Linked DNA regions of Homo sapiens: region 2 is linked to region 1. A link means that fine-mapping ties the variant in region 1 to the expression of a gene that starts in the linked region. Tissue or cell type: whole blood. Region 1 holds a variant in brackets; the other region holds the start of a gene. All regions are shown on one strand. Distances are from middle to middle.

Region 1 (8,000 bases):
TCCTGTTGTCAAGAAGAGCAGAAAGTGCCGATTTTTTTCTGTGAAATTCGATAATTTTTAAATATTGGCACCTGTTTTGATATCAGTCACTGTATGAGACCAGCTCAGTGTGTCAGTGAGCTGCTTACATTGACATGGCACTGTCTGGAGTGGCAAAACGGTACCAAGAGCCAACATGGGGATAGTGCTCTTCCCCCTTGGTGGGCGCTGGCCTGAGCACTGTGTTGACTGATTTAATCCTCTCACTGACCCCTGATGTAAGTGATGTTATTGGCACAAGGTGTCTGGAGTAAGATCACACGGGTAGAATGAAGAAGCTGGGATGACTCGATGACTGATTTCATTTGGGGAGAATCAGGAAGGTCTAGATTTGAGACTCTTTTAACAATGAGAGACTGGAATCAAATGTTCTCATCCATAGCTCCTATCCTGGACTATGACCTCTGGCCCCTAGCCCCTGGCCCCTGTCCTACCCCAGGGACCACCTCTGATGCAGCCCTACGTAAACACCTGCCCCCCTAGAAGACTGTCCTAGATCCCTGGGGCTCTGTTCTGGCCCAGGCACCACAAGGGGCTGCTGCCTGCTGAGGTGCTCCCTGGTTCAACACGGCTCCCTTTACGATGGCAGGTTTCTAAATGAGAAAAGTGGTTGTGCATGTCTAGAGTATTTGGCCATGATAAGGGGTTCTCATTGTTGGTGGCCTGGCCATTCTGACCTATTCTAGAAGTGGTAGAGCACATGGGGCTGGGGTGTGGGGCTTCAGCGGGCGGTGTGTGTCTCCCAGGATCCACGAGCTGCACTTCATGGACGAGCTGGTCAAGGTGGAGGCCCATGATGCTGAGGTGCTGTGCCTGGAGTACTCCAAGCCAGAGACGGGTGAGCCCGCAGCAGGGGTGGAATGGGGGTCAGGCAGGGAGGCAGCCCCCCTGGCAGGGCCACAGAAAGGGGTAGTTGGTGTCTGGTGGGACTGTGGATGACAGCTGGGAGTTTTGTGTTCGGTAAGGGCCCCTGTAGCTGGACCCTGAGACCAGAGTGGCTGGGACTTCAGAAAGCAAGACACCCGCAGGCAGGACTCAGCTTGACTTGCCCGCTGCTGGTGCCAGCACCCAAGCCAAAGGGGTGGATGTATGAATGAGTGAATTGTGAATGAGAAGATAGATTGATTGTTAGGCATTATTTTCAAAAAGTTTGAAGCCTATAGAAATATTGGGAGAATATTATAATGAACACCCCATAGGCTTCACCCAAATTCCTCAATTTTTTTTTTGAGATGGAGTCTTGCTGTCACCCAGGCTAGAGGGGAGTGGCACCATCTCTGCTGACTGCAGCCTCCACCTCTCTGGTTCAAGTGATTCTCGTGCCTCAGTCTCCCATGTAGCTGGGATTACAGGTGCCTGCTGCCATGCCTGGCCAATTTTTGTATTTTTAGTAGAGATGGGGTTTCACCATGTTGGCCAGGTTGGTCTCAAACTCCTGACCTCAGGTGATCCGCCCGCCTTGGCCTCCCAAAGCGCTGGGATTAGGGCATGAGCCACCACACCTGACCTTTTTTTTTTTTTTTTTTTTTTTGAGACAAGAGTCTCACTCTGTCGCCCTGGCCGGAGGGCAATGACGCGATCTCAGTTCACTGCAACTTCCGCCTCCCAGGTTGAAGCGATTCCCCTGCGTTCAAGCGATTCTCCTGCCTCAGCCTCTCGAGAGTAGCTGGGATTACAGGCACGCCCCCACCACACCCGGCTAATTTTTGTATTTTTAGTACAGACGGGGTTTCACCATGTTAGCCTAGGCTGAAGGCTAGGACCATAGTAGGGTCTCCAGACCTCATGGTCCTCTTCATTAAAACAACAGAAAATTCCTTCTGGGCCATCAGATGAGATCATGAGATAGGAGAAGATTTCCAAGTGAAGATTTCGTTTGTTTCAAGACAGAGTCTTGCTCTGTCACCCAGATGATATATGGATGATATATGGTAGCATTTTGTGTCCTTTTTCTTGTTTATTTTTAGCATAGAAGGTATTGCACGATGCTGGTCTCAAACTCCTGACGTCAGGTGATCCACCCGCCTTGGCCTCCCAAAATGCTGGGATTACAAGCGTGAACCACCATGCCCGGCTCCTCAAGATGTTTTCTAGGCTGGGCACGGTGGCTCATGCCTGTAATCCCAGCACTTTGGGAGTTACAGAGTTGGTGGAGTTATATCCTGATGTGATTTTCCCCATGTTCTTCTTTCGTTCTCTCATCCCCCATGCTGTGTGCCCCACCAACTTGTCTTGAAACATATCTTCACTCGGTTCGCCTCTCCTGATCTCCCCTCTGCCTCAGGTCATGTTATTAGGCCTCAGACATAGCAAGTGACCAGAGTAGGGAAGGCTGGTGGCAGATGGGAGTCTGGCCACAGGCAGTCAATAGGACCTGAACAAGGCCCAGGTAGCCAGACCTCAGAGGGTGAGAGGACACTGGTTTTGGAAGAGGCTGAGAGGTTGCCAGGGCTTTACCCAGCACAGACCCAGCAGGCAAGAGCGCTGGGCTCTGCTGGGGCGTCTGCTGTGGATGTCCCTGGAGGAGCGTCCATGCGCCCATCGAGACTCATCCTCCCTGAGCTGGTGGTGAGGAGGTGAAATGCCAGGGTGTGGGGGCTCTGGGAAAGACCACACAGAGCTAAGGGAGTGGCCCTTGCCAGGCTTGGGCCAAGTTGGCTACAGTTGAAGAACCAAAGACCCCTTCTCCGAGGACTGGGCAGCTTGGTCACACTGCCCTTCTGGGAGGCCAGGGCACCCACGCAGCCTTCAGGAACCAGTCTCATTCTCTCCTCTCACAGGGCTGACCTTGCTGGCCTCAGCCAGTCGGGACCGGCTGATCCATGTGCTGAACGTGGAGAAGAACTACAACCTGGAGCAGACGCTGGATGACCACTCCTCCTCCATCACCGCCATCAAGTTCGCTGGTGAGCCCCTTTCTTCCCGCTCCCTGCGCCTTGCTAGCTACCCTGCTAAAAAAGGATTCATTCTTTCAACTCTCCTGTAAAATATATATCCAAACAAGTGAATACAGTATCTGTGTACAGTATACAGAATAATGACTGGGGCCGGGTGTAATGGCTCACACCTGTAATCCCAACACTTTGGGAGGCCAAGGAGGGTGGATCACCTGAGGTCAGGAGTTCGGGACCTTCCTAGACAACATGGTGAAACCCCGTCTCTACTAAAAATACAAAAATTTGCTGGGCGGGGTGTTGTTTCTGTAATCCCAGCTACTCAGGAGGCCGAGGTGGGAGAATTGCTTGAACCTGGGAGGTGGAGGCTGCACTCCAGCCTAGGCAACAGAGTGAGACCCTGTCTCAAAAAAAAAAGAATAATGGCCAGGTACCATGGCTCACACCTGTAATCTCAGCACTTTGGGAGGCCAAGGCAGGTAGATCATGAGGTCAGGAGTTCGAGACCAGTCTGGCCAACATAGTGAAACCCCATCTCTACTAAAAATACAAAAAAATTAGCCAGGCATGGTGGTGTGCACCTGTAATCCCAGCTACTCGGGAGGCTGAGGCAGGAGAATTGTGTGAACCCGGGAGGCGGAGGTTGCAGTGAGCCAAGATTGCGCCAGTGACTCCACTCCAGCTTGGGTGACAATGCGAGACTTTGTCTCAAAAAAAAAAAAAAGAAGAATATAGGCCGGGCGTGGTGGCTCATGCTTGTCATCCCAGCACTTTGGGAGGCTGAGGCAGGCAGATCACCTGAAGCTAGGAGTTTAAGACCAGCCTGGCCAACATAGTGAAACCCCGTCTCTACTAAAAATTCAAAAAAAGTAACCGGGCATGGTGGTGCACACCTGTAATCCCAGCTACTTGGGAGGCTGAGGCAGGAGAATAGCTTGAATCCAGGAGGCCAAGGTTGCAGTGAGCCAAAATTGTTTCACTGCACTCCAGTCTGGGTAACAAGAGCAAAACTCCATCTCAAAAAAAATAAAAATAAAAAATAAGCTGGGCGTGGTGGCCGAAGTGAGTATCCACAGTTCTTAGGAGCAAGGTTTGAACTAGGACGTTGTTGATAGCAGAGACTGTTCTAATTGCTCATGGTCGTAATATTGTTAAATACGGTACTTGGATTCACCACGTGCAGGTTAAGAAGCAGAACATTACCAGAGGCTTGCAGGCCTTCTCTGGGTCCCTCCCAGGTTACCCTTCCTCCCTTATATGGGGCTCACTCCCTTCTGTGAGCCAATGACTCCTCCTTGAGCAACATCTAATACTTGTATGTCAGGCCTGGACCCTCTCAAATGTCCTGTCATGAAGGAGCATGTGTGATGTGCCCAGACTCAGAGTTTTATATTTGTTCTGTCATTTCATCCTCACCAAACTGTTATTCTGTAAAGAAATGAGACGGCCGGGGGCATCTCACGCCATTGCACTCCAGCCTGGGCAACAAGAGCGAAACTCTGTCTCAAAAAAAAAGAAATGAGAATAATAAAAGCAAGAATGTTTCTAATGCTTACCATGTGGCAGTCCCTGTTCCAAGGGCTTCACATCACTCTCCAGAGAAGG[A/G]ACTGTCACCATGCCCATTGTACGGACCGGAAGTTGAGGCTCAAAGGGGAGGCCCAGGTTCAGAGCAGTGTTTAACAGCTTTGACCTTGGCACCAGAGAATGCCTGGGTTCAGTCCTGCCCCTGTCCTCTCTGTGTGCCTTGGGACAAGGACTCTGTGAACCTCTGTGTTCATGCTTGTCCAGTGGGATGGGTGGTGAGCATTCAGGAAGACCCGCTACATGCATGGGGCCTGGCCCAAGGCTCATGTGGATCTTGCAGTTGATCCTGATGGCACGAGCCTCCCAGCCTGTCTCCACTGGTCGCTGCTGCAGTCCTGCCTCTACTCCGCTACTCAAGTCACCTATCTCAATCCCAGACTGGAGAGGGTGTCCCTTCTTTGTCCCCAGCCTTTGTTTCTCTATATGCCCTTGCTCTGCAGAGCCTGCCTTGGCCACAGCTCCACCTGTGCCCCCTCACACGTACAGCTCATACCTTACAGAGTCCCACCCAGACCCAGCACCCACCTCACCACCTTTAGGAAGCCTTGATCCCAGCACAGTTGATTGATGGCTCTTGCAGTGGAGTTCCCCAGCTAGGGTCCCCTGCCCATGTGGCCCAGCCCTGCCTAACACACAGCGTCCTCCTCCCCTAGGCAACAGAGACATCCAGATGATCAGCTGTGGGGCTGACAAGAGCATCTACTTTCGCAGTGCCCAGCAGGTAGGGTGGCATGGCCTCCTTGGGGGCTGGGGTGGGGGGTTGTCGGGGCATTCTCTGAAGGTCCTGCCGGCCCTGCCAGGGTTCGGATGGACTACACTTTGTCCGTACCCACCACGTAGCAGAGAAAACCACCTTGTATGACATGGACATTGACATCACCCAGAAGTACGTGGCCGTGGCCTGCCAGGACCGCAATGTGAGGTAAGGGGTGGCCCTGGACCCTTAGCTGGCCTGGTCTGCCTTGTCCTAGGCTGTCTGCTTTCCTCCCTCTGTTCCTCTGGTCCCCAAGAAGCTGGGAAGGAATTGAGGGACCCAGCAGGTGTTCCTTCTTGGTTTTTTTTTGTTTTTGTTTTTGAGGCAGAGTCTTGCTCTGTTGCCCATGCTAGAGTGCAGTGGCACCATTTTAGCTCACTGCAACCTCCACCTCCTGGGTTCAAGTGATTCTCCTGCCTCAGCCTCCCAAGTAGCTGGAATTACAGGCGCCTGCCACCATGCCTAGCTAATTTTTTGTATTTTTAGTAGAGACGAGGTTTCGCCATGTTGGCCAGGCTGGTCTCGAACTCCTGACCTCAGGTGATATTGCCCACCTCAGCCTCCCAAAGTGCTGGGATTACAGGCGTGAGCCACCGTGCCCGGCCACCAGCAGGTATTTCTTAGAAGCTGGGCTCTCCCAAGCCTGGCCTCCAGGTCAGCAGAGGGCTTTCTTCTGGCTCTCCCTAGAGCCGGTGTGGGATGACTAAGGTGCTGATGTGGCACATAAACTCCCTCATTCACCCGTATTCCCTGAGCACCTAACTGGGCTGGATGGTGCTGGGATCATGGCAGTGGCCAGGATAGCCCCAGGCCCTCCTTCATGGAGCTCACAGTCCAGTAGAATGGACACGGCCACCTCACAGCCACAGACAGTGACAGAGTGGTCAGAGATGGGGGAGCCCAGGGGCCCTGTGGAGACACCTGACCCCACCTGCGGATCAAGCAGGACTTCCTGGAGGAAGAGACACCTTAGCCTGGGGAGGATGTGGAGGAGCGAGCCAGGGGGAGGCAGAGAGTGAGTGTGCAGAGGGCAAAGCAGTGCAAAGAGGCTCTGCACCCCTTCCCAGTTCTTTCTCATGCGGTGCCAAGCACTGAGCTTGCAGTGTGTGGGGGAGATGAACATTAACTCAGTGGATACCCCAGGACAACCTCAGCTTGAGATGGGGTTTCAGTTTCAGTCTAGGCATCAGATGGGGACAAGAGGTAGCAGGGGGCTTCCAGGGGAGGGGAGGACAGCAAGAGCCAGAGAATGAGGTGGTGGGGTAGGCGGGGCCCTGTTGGCCGCAACATGCCCCTACTTCCCCAGAGTCTACAACACTGTGAACGGGAAGCAGAAGAAGTGCTACAAGGGCTCCCAGGGTGACGAAGGGTCCTTGCTGAAGGTGAGGAGTTGGAGACCCCTGTCTGTCTGCTGCCCTGATGGGCCACCTATTGTGACGGCCCACACCTGAGACCTGTGCCCTTGGTCCTTCCTCAGTGCACCGCGCTGCCCAGCACCTTCTCAGGCCTGGTTAAACAAGGATGCTTGCGAGAGGGTGGGGAGGGTGACCCCAGCTGTGTTTCCTTTATTTACAGAGCCCTTCCCCAAGTGGGGCGTCTAAGTGGGTTCCATTTTGAGTGGCAGCAGGGTATGGTGGGAAGAATCAGAGGCATGAACTCCCCTCCTGGTTTGCCCACACCAGCCACGGGTCACTCAGGACAAGGGGGGACCTTCTCAGAGCCTCTGGTCTAGGACAGTTATGGGTTCAGGTTCTGCCTCAGGCTGACTGTGTGACCTTGGGCAAGCATCATCTCTTGAAATGCACACAGACAGCTTGTCTCATAGACTTGTTCTCTGGAGGAGTTCAGTTTGCACATGTTCAGTGCTTAGCACAGGGCCTGGCTACTGTTGTTACTGCTGCGGTGGTTGTTAATTTCTTCACGTGTCGAATGGGAGCGGGAGCTCCTGCCCTGCCAGAGTCCCATGTGCTGTGCATGCAGCACGGGGGAGGGAGGGGCCCAGGCCTCATCATAAGGAAGAAGCAGGCAGCTGGAGTGACATGTGGGTCCCTTTCCTGGCAGGTCCATGTGGACCCCTCAGGCACCTTCCTGGCCACCAGCTGCTCTGACAAAAGCATCTCAGTGATTGACTTTTACTCGGGCGAGTGCATTGCCAAGATGTTTGGCCATTCAGGTGGGTGTGCCTCTCTGCTTGGGATGCCTCCCCACCCGCCCACACCCTCTGACTCCGAAGGCAAGTGCAGCCTCTCTGCTTTGTTTGCAGAAATTATTACCAGCATGAAGTTCACCTATGACTGTCATCACTTGATCACAGTATCTGGAGACAGGTGGGACATGGACCTTTGGGAGAGTTGTGGCTCAGATACCATGAGCACTGCACTCAGCCTGCCTGTGTAGAGAGCATTTCTAAACTGCCCAGTTTGGATTGTGGGAGTCTTGGTGTCACACCCAGCCCTGAGTTCAAATACCAGCTCTAAGCTGGGCATGATGGCTCACGCCTGTAACCCCAGCACTTTGGGACGCTGAGGCGGGTGGATCACTTGAGCTCAGGAGTTCGAGACCAGCCTGGGCAACATAGCAAAACCCTATCTCTACAAAAAATTAGCCGGGTGTGGTCATGTACACCTCTAGTCCCAGCTACTCAGGAGGGGGAAGATGGCTTGAACCTGGTAGGTAGAGGTTGCAGGGAGCACAGATCATGCCAGTGCATTCCAGCCTTGGTGACAGAG
Region 2 (8,000 bases), 26 kb after region 1:
AAAAAAAAAATTAAAAAACAGAGCTTGGATTGCTTCTTAGTCTTCTGGCTAAGAATCAAGTGTAAAACAGCTTGGCCAGTGTGCCGGGGTAGGGTCCTGGGAGCCCCTGGCTGTGTCAAGAGACCCCCTTTGGGCCAGGTGCGGTGGCTCATGCCTGTAATCCCAGCACTTTGGGAGGCCAAGGCAGGCGGATCACTTGACGTCAGGAGTTCAAGACTAGCCTGGCCAACATGGTGAAACTCTGTCTCTACCAAAAATACAAAAATTAGCCCGGTGTGGTGGTGCATGCCTGTAGTCCCAGCTACTCAGGAGGCTGAGGCAGGAGAATCGTTTGAACCCGGGAGGTGGAGGTTCCAGTGAGCCAAGATGGTGCCACTGCACTCCAGCCTGGGCAACAAGAGTGAAACTCCGTCTCAAAAAAAGAAAAAAAAATAGGAGACCCCCTTTTACTTTCCAGACTGTGGGAGGGAGGAAGAGTGTTGTCCCAGGCAGTAACTAGGGGCTAGATTATTAACAAACTAGTATTTTAGTGCCTGCTACACCTGAACAGTGCTTCTGGCTGAATGTTAGCCCTGGGAATCTGAAGATCAGAGAGGTGGGGCATCCTACCTGAGGATGCACAGCCTGGATCCTCATTTTGCCCTGATTTATCCAGATCTGCTGTCCTCCCTGCACCCTACAGAGCAGGGCAATCACAGCAGGGGGCCCCTTCAGTGTCCTCAGACAGCTGCTGTGATTTGAATAACCAGGCAGGCTGCTGGATGTCCCCTGGTGACTGATTTGCCTGGCAAACAGACCCTCAACCCCTGGGAGACAGTCCCCCTGGGGCCTTGTTTCTTCTTCCTATCCTCAAAAGCTCCCCAGGCCCATCTCCCCTTGCCTGGCTCTGCTTGGTGGTCCTAGTGCTTGTCCACCCCTGGAGGCTGGATGGTTCCCTCCAAAACCTGGGAGAAGATGGGCAGGTCCCCAGGCAGGGGTAACCTGAGCCAGCTTAGTCCACTCCCAGGGCCAGCCAGGAAATTTGCATGAAGAGAATGAGGTTCCTCAGAGGCTTCCCCTCCTTTCCCACCAGGGATAGTCATCCTGGGGCTGAGGTCTGACAGCAGGTGGAAGCAGCCCCTGTGTGTGGAGAGCCTTCCGGAGGGCATGCCCCGCGCCTTCCTGGTCAGGAGTCGGCGTCCACAGCCCCCCAACTGGGGCCATCTGCCTGACCAGCTCCGGGGAGATGCCTATATCCCAGGTGGGCCCCTCACTGTGCCTGGAGGTAAGGGGCAGGAGAGACGCAGTGTCACCATCTGGCTTTTCTCCTCAGACTGCAGCAGCCTGGGGGGGCCACCGGCACAACAGTCGTCCAGTGTCAGGGATCCGTGGACAGCGGTGAGTGTGTAACTGGCTAGCAAAGCCAGCTGTTTCGCTCCTGCCTGCTCTCAGCCTTAATGAAGCTGACAGCCCCTTGCTCCCCCGACCCATCTGCACACGCCCTCCAGCCTCGGGACCTGTCCGCCCCTACTTCTCTGTGTTGGGAATGCCTCTCCTTTCCTAGTAGTGAGCTCTCTACTGTTAGGTCTCACCCCAGGCACCAGGGCCGGCAGCCACAGGGATCTCTTCCAGCGGGGCACAAGATTCATCCCCACATGTGGATGATCCGCTTTATGTCAGAACATGGGACAAGGCAACAGGAGTGCGATGGGAGATAAGGGCTTTTTCAGCTGTGCATGCATTGGAGGAAGGAAAGCGCCAGCCGGAATGTAATATATTCATGAAAGCAAGGCACTGTTCTAGGCATGGGCTGTTATATTCAGCGGGAATAAGACAAAAATCCACAATTTTATGGAGCTTATATTCTGGTTGGGGCTGCATGTATAGACAATAAAATTAGTCAGCCTGTAATTCCAGCACTTTGGGAGGCCGAGGCGGGTGAATCACTTGAGGTCATGAGTTCGAGACCAGGCTGGCCAACATGTTGAAACCTTGTCTCTACTAAAATTACAAACATTAGCCAGACATGGTGGCACGTGCCTGTAATCCCAGCTCCTCAGGAGGCTGAGGCAGGAGAATCAGTTGAACCTAGGAGGCAGGGCAGAGGATGCAGTGAGCCGAGTCTGCGCCACTGCACTCCAGCCTGGGAAACAGATCTAGACTCCATCCCCCCTCAAAAAAAACAATAAAATTAGAAAAATAGACCGGGCATAGTGGCTCATGCCTGTAATCCCAGCACTTTGTGAGGCCAAGGTGGGTGGATTGCTTGAGGTCAGGAATTCAAGACCAGCCTGGCCAACATGGTGAAACCCCATCTCTACAAAAAATAAAAAAATTAACTGGGCATGTGGCGCATGCCTACAATCGTGTAATCGTGGGGAGGCTGAGGCACTAGAATCGCTTGAACCCGGGAGGCGGAGGTTGCAGTGACCTGACATCATACCACTTCACTCCTGCCTGGGCGACAGAGCAAGACTCTGTCTTTAAAAAAAAAAAATGTGTATGTCACATCAGAAGATGGGACTTGGCATAGAGAAAGTAAGGACCATGGGATAGTGAGGGAAGGCCCTGGAGAGTGACAGGCACACACACTAATCACTGTCTCCCACCTGCCTTCCTAATCCTCCGTGGTGGCTCAGGACACTCTGTAAATACTCATTTGCAGAGTAACAAAGGGTGGATGGGGTCCAGCCAGAGAGGCTAATAACTCCTGCATCCCTCCAGCAGCCCACACAGGGCAACCTGACCTCTGCTCCCAGGGGCCCTGGGACGCTGGGCTGCCCGCTCTGCCCTAAGGCCTTCCCTCTGCAGCGCATGCTGACAAGGCACCTCAAGTGCCACAGCCCCGTGCGCCGCCACCTGTGCCGCTGTTGTGGCAAGGGCTTTCATGACGCCTTCGATCTCAAGCGCCACATGAGGACTCACACTGGTGAGCAGTGGCAGGGACAGGGAAAAGTTGCTGGGCCCCAGGTGGGGATGGAAGGAAATGGAGAGAGGTGCTGGGCTGTGGAGTGTCCATGGTTTGTGTATGTGGGGTATGGAGAATCAAGACATGATGTCTCTCGGACCCCAGTGGGTGGGTGTAAGGTGGCACCAAAATAGGGGCCTGTCACGGAATGCAGAGTGCAGACGGATGCCGGTTATACGATTCAGGCTCCAGATCGAAAGGCAAGGGAAGGCCTCCCTCTCCATCCCCCAGGGGAGGGAGCATCCTGGTGAGGGAGAGTGGAGACACAGGTGTCTGGCCCATGTCTGCACTGGGTGACGGTAGCAGATGGTGGGTCATGGGCGGAAGAGTCTGAAGAGCTTGGAATAGGTACCAGAAATGCTCAACACTGGAAAGCAGGGTGGGGGCGCTTTAGTCCAGAGCCCATTGCCCTCTCTGTCCAGCCCTCCCCTCTGCGCCCATCTGTGCAGGGATCCGGCCCTTCCGCTGCAGTGCTTGCGGGAAAGCGTTTACGCAGCGCTGCTCCCTGGAAGCTCACCTTGCTAAGGTGCATGGACAGCCGGCCAGCTACGCTTACCGTGAGCGCCGCGAGAAGCTGCACGTGTGCGAGGACTGCGGCTTCACCAGCTCCCGGCCCGACACCTACGCACAGCACCGCGCCCTGCACCGCGCAGCCTGATACGGTGTGCCAGCGTCCTCCCCACGAGGCAAATAAACACAGAAAACTCACGCATGGAATCTGGTGTTTATTACACTCGGGGGAGAGAGGAGGTCACTCGGTCCAGCGGTGGCCGCAGTGTGGGGCTGTGCACACGTAGTAAAGGCGCATGGCGTCCTGGCAGAAATGATGCATGGTTAGGAAGGATTTGGACCCAGCAGCGCCTTACCCCAAAAGAACAGGCAAGAGAACTTCACCAATAGGTAAGGGCCCGGCAGAGTTCCAAGAAGCGCAGGGTCACCCACATTGATATCCCCGCCCCCAGAAAGGACCAAACAAGCCCCAGATACTTAGAAAGCCCTCGCGCCACTTACCTCGGCCCGCGCACTGTGTGACTGGAAGAACACAGCCTCCTTGTGGCCGCACCTGAGAGGGTAGGGGCTCGGTCACCGGAGGCTTCACACCCTTCCCTCCTCCCTTCGCCCAGTGAGGAGACGAGCCTCACTTTACCTCCCCAGTACCAGCTGAACGCTCACTTTTGGCACGGGTGGTCCTCGGTCCGCGGCAACGTGGGGTCCTGGGACACGTCGGCGATAATCTGGGTCAGTTCGCTGCAGGGACGCGGGGGTGCAAAATTACGCTCAGACCCAGCCTCCAGAGCCAACACCCCCGCCCCCAGCTCAGGGCCCGCCACTCACTCCACTTCGTGCGTGATCTTGTTGACATAGATGCAGCTGTTGTCGGCCTCCTGCTGGTAATCACAGTTCCGGCACTACGAGAGGGCGAGTGTGGGGGAAAGGGGGTCACGGAAGGATTCCAGACAAGATTGGGAGGAGAGGGCAGGGTGATCCCGGAGGATATGACGACAGGACTCTCTTTGGGGATGGGCAGGACATGAGAGTCAGGATCACTTGAGGTGCAGCGGAGGGCGAACAGGGAGTCCGATCACAGAGGCAGGGGGCAGGGCGGGGCCACGCTGGGAACAGGTGGACCTGCCGGGGAAGACCCCGGCGCTCACCGCGTAGAGCAGAATGCGGTTCTCCTTGTCTTCCTTGGGGTACAGCATGTTGTTACTGTGGGGAGGGGGAGGTGCCAGGGGTTAGTTCTGGAGCCATTCCTCGCCCGCCTTCTAACATCACCCGCTCCCTCCGCCTCACCATTCCTGGCAGAAGCGAATACCCACGAAGCCCGGCTCGTAAGTCCCGTCGGGCTCCATGGCGACGCGCAGCCCGCGCAGCCCTCCCAGCCTTCCGCGCTTGCTCCGCCGCGCTACAGGTCGCGGGAGGGGCCAGGCCTAGGTGCTTCGCCAAAAGAGGGCGGAGCTGCGCACACGTGCTGGCTCCCCGCCGCCTCGGGCTCGGCTCTCTCCGCGCAGAGGTTTCATGGCTTGCTTCAATCTTTTGATATCTTAGAGTAATTGCTTCCAATTTTTGGGCATCGCCGCCTCAGTTTACAGAATAGTATGGATCTGGTGCCAGAGCCGGGAAAACGATGCGCATCGTAAACCGCAAAACACTGAGCATCCAGGACAGAAGCCAAGGCGCTTGGCTTGGTTGAAGGCCAGTGCGCATGCGCGAGTTTACCCTTCGCGGACTGGGCGAGCTCTTGCCACTCCTACCTCCGGGCTTCAGTCTTCGCCGCCTGTTCTGGTCCTTTCCCGGGCCGCTATTGGAAGAACCGTGAACTATGGAAGGCCCCTCTGGATTGGCTGGGCTGGCCCAAGAGTAAGGAGAGCCCTCTTCCTGGCGGTGGGGAAGGGACGGCGGCGATTGGCGGACGCTCCTGGCAGGAGAGCGCGGATTGGTCAGGCACGGAGCAGGAGGCGGGGCTGATAGCCCAGCAGCAGCAGCGGCGGCGGCGGCTGCGGAGCGGGTGTGAGGCGGCTGGACCGCGCTGCAGGCATCCGCAGGGCGCGGCAAGATGGAGGTGACGGGGGTGTCGGCACCCACGGTGACCGTTTTCATCAGCAGCTCCCTCAACACCTTCCGCTCCGAGAAGCGATACAGCCGCAGCCTCACCATCGCTGAGTTCAAGGTGTGGCCATGGGGGCGGGGTCCGGAGGGGCGGGGCGAAGAAATTGGGGGGTTCCCGGAAGGGGGAGGCTGGGAGGGGCCGGGGAGTGACTGGGCGGGCCCGGAGGTGATCCCAGGCTGCGGAGGCTGGGGACCCGGTCGCGGCGGGGCGGGTCCGGAGAGAACTCGAGAGTGCAGAGATGAGGGCCGGGTCCAGCGAAAAATCCGACGGTCCAGAGGGCGGGGGCAAGAGGCGAGGGGCTGGATTGCGGCCCCGTGCGTCCTGACTGGGGGGTCTTTTGGAGGAAAAGGGACGTGGCGATGGTCATTGATGCAAGGGGCGGGGCCTCCGTGGCCTCCTTCTTCTCACCCTGCCTCCTCCTCACAGTGTAAACTGGAGTTGCTGGTGGGCAGCCCTGCTTCCTGCATGGAACTGGAGCTGTATGGAGTTGACGACAAGTTCTACAGCAAGCTGGATCAAGAGGATGCGCTCCTGGGCTCCTACCCTGTAGATGACGGCTGCCGCATCCACGTGAGGACTCTCTATCTGGGACACTCCCCCACCCCACCTTTCATTTGGTTATTCAACAGACACTTGCTGGGCTTTGCCCTCAGTCATACCCGAGATAGGTCCTGCCTTCGTGGAGCCTCCAGTGCAGCCTGACGAGAGACAGACCCATCATTAGACAGGGACAGCCTAGAGTGGTCTGGGCTGGGATCAGGAAATCCCAGGGGACTGGAGCCACCAAGAAGAGGTGCCTGACTCCACCTGGGAGAATCAGAGAGGGCTTCCTGGAGGAAGGGATGTCTGAGCTGAGGGATGAGGAAAGGGTGACTTAAGAGAAAGAGGTGGAAAGGAGGGAGCAGGGTGTACAGAGGCCTAGAATGTGAGGTAGGTCACAGTGAGCGACCAGGCTGGACAGCTTGGGAGAAACCAGAACACAGGATCTCTTTGTGCATCCACTCAGTACATCCTTTCTGTCTTTTTTTGAGACAGAGTCTCACTCTGTCACCCAACCTGGAATGGAGTGCAGTGGCACTATCGGGCTCACTGCAGCCTTCACCTCCTGGGTTCAAGTGATCCTTGTGCCCCAGCCTCCCGAGTAGCTGGGATTACAGGTGCCCACCCAGCTAATTTTTGTATTTTTAGTAGAGATGGGTTTTTGCCATGTTGGCCAGGCTGGTCTGGAACTCCTGACCTCAAGTGATCAGCTCACCTTGGCCTACTAAAGTGCTGGGATTACAGGCGTGAGCCACCAAGCCCAGCCCCTTTCTGTCCTTATTCCCTCCCGACCTCACTCAGTCTGTAGCAGCCACATTGCTCCTTGCACAGTCCAGGTGAGCTCGGCCTCTGGATCCTGGGCCTGAATGGTTCTTTTGTCATATGCCTGCGTGCCTCACCCTTCCTTCCTGTCTTAATTTAAAGTGTCAGTATTCTAGTGAAGTCTTCACCGGCCTCAGTGTTAACGTTTACCTCATTCCTTTCCCCTTCTTTGCTTTATTTTAGATTTTTGTGTTTACAAGTAATTCTCCTCTGACACACTCTGGATTTCTCTCATCTGGTTTATTTACTCTCTGTCTCCCTGGATTCGAGTGCCCTGAGGGTGGAAATTTTGATCACTATAATTCACTACTGTGTCCCCAGTACTTGGAATAGTGCCTGGGACAGGGAGGATAGTCCGTGAATCGTTTTTTGTTTTGTTTTGTTCGAGACAGAGTTTTGCCCTTGTTCCCCAGGCCGGAATGCAGTGGTGTGATCTCAGCTCACTGCAACCTCTGTCTCCTGGGTTCAAGCTATTCTCCTGCCTCAGCCTCCCAAGTAGCTGGGATTACAGGTGTGCACCACCACGCCTGGCTAATTTTGTAATTTTGTATTTTAAGTAGAGTTGGGGTTTCACCATGTTGGCCAGGCTGGTCTTGAACTCCTGACCTCAAGTGATCTGCCCACCTCAGCCTCGCAAAGTGCTGGGATTACAGGCATGAGCCACCACGCCCAGCCCTGTGAATCATTGTTGAATGATGAATTGAATCCATAAAGTAAGACCACAAGGATAATGTAATTATCCCCATTTTGCAGAAGAGAAAATTTAGCTTCAGGGTGGAGTTTATTTATTTATTTTTTATTTTTTTTGAGACAGAGTCTTGCTCTGTCTCCCAGGCTGGCGTGCAGTGGCATGATCTCGGCTCACTGCAACCTCCGCCTCCCCGGTTCAAGCGATTCTCCTGCCTCAGCCTCCCGAGTAGGTGGGATTACAGATGCCCGCCACTACACCAGGGTAATTTTTGTATTTTTAGTAGAGACGGGGTTTCACCATGTTAGTCAGACTGGTCTCGAACTCCTGACCTCAGGTAATCCGCCCACCTCGGCCTCCCAAAGTGCTGGGATTACAGGCATGAGCCACCG

The links. PIP is the estimated chance that this variant, and not a neighbour inherited with it, causes the effect.
Region 2: it holds the start of POLR2I, and the variant in region 1 is fine-mapped to the expression of POLR2I in whole blood (INTERVAL, PIP 0.96).

What each region holds. Positions count from the first base shown.
Region 1 is chr19:36,083,868-36,091,867 of GRCh38, forward strand. WDR62 (WD repeat domain 62) reads left to right here. Exons shown (of 32, transcript NM_001083961.2): 12 at 786-877; 13 at 2,820-2,945; 14 at 5,171-5,238; 15 at 5,318-5,439; 16 at 6,578-6,653; 17 at 7,333-7,444; 18 at 7,535-7,598. Among named protein-coding and RNA genes, the nearest start is that of OVOL3, 23 kb to the right of the region's middle. The variant A/G (reference allele first, on the strand shown) is at 4,539.
Region 2 is chr19:36,110,057-36,118,056 of GRCh38, forward strand. It overlaps POLR2I (RNA polymerase II subunit I), which reads right to left and starts at 4,819. Exons shown (of 6, transcript NM_006233.5): 1 at 4,742-4,819; 2 at 4,603-4,657; 3 at 4,283-4,356; 4 at 4,121-4,195; 5 at 3,959-4,010; 6 at 3,653-3,761. The coding sequence starts at 4,800. The coding sequence ends at 3,699. It overlaps OVOL3 (ovo like zinc finger 3), which reads left to right and starts at 1,087. Exons shown (of 4, transcript NM_001302757.2): 1 at 1,087-1,240; 2 at 1,313-1,377; 3 at 2,704-2,908; 4 at 3,397-3,655. The coding sequence starts at 1,147. The coding sequence ends at 3,605. TBCB (tubulin folding cofactor B) reads left to right here and starts at 5,412. Exons shown (of 6, transcript NM_001281.3): 1 at 5,412-5,618; 2 at 5,985-6,128. The coding sequence starts at 5,505. It also overlaps a transcript of WDR62 not described here. RefSeq lists enhancers at 686-1,316, 1,317-1,946, 3,803-4,314, 4,333-4,462, 6,053-6,142 and a silencer at 5,653-5,742.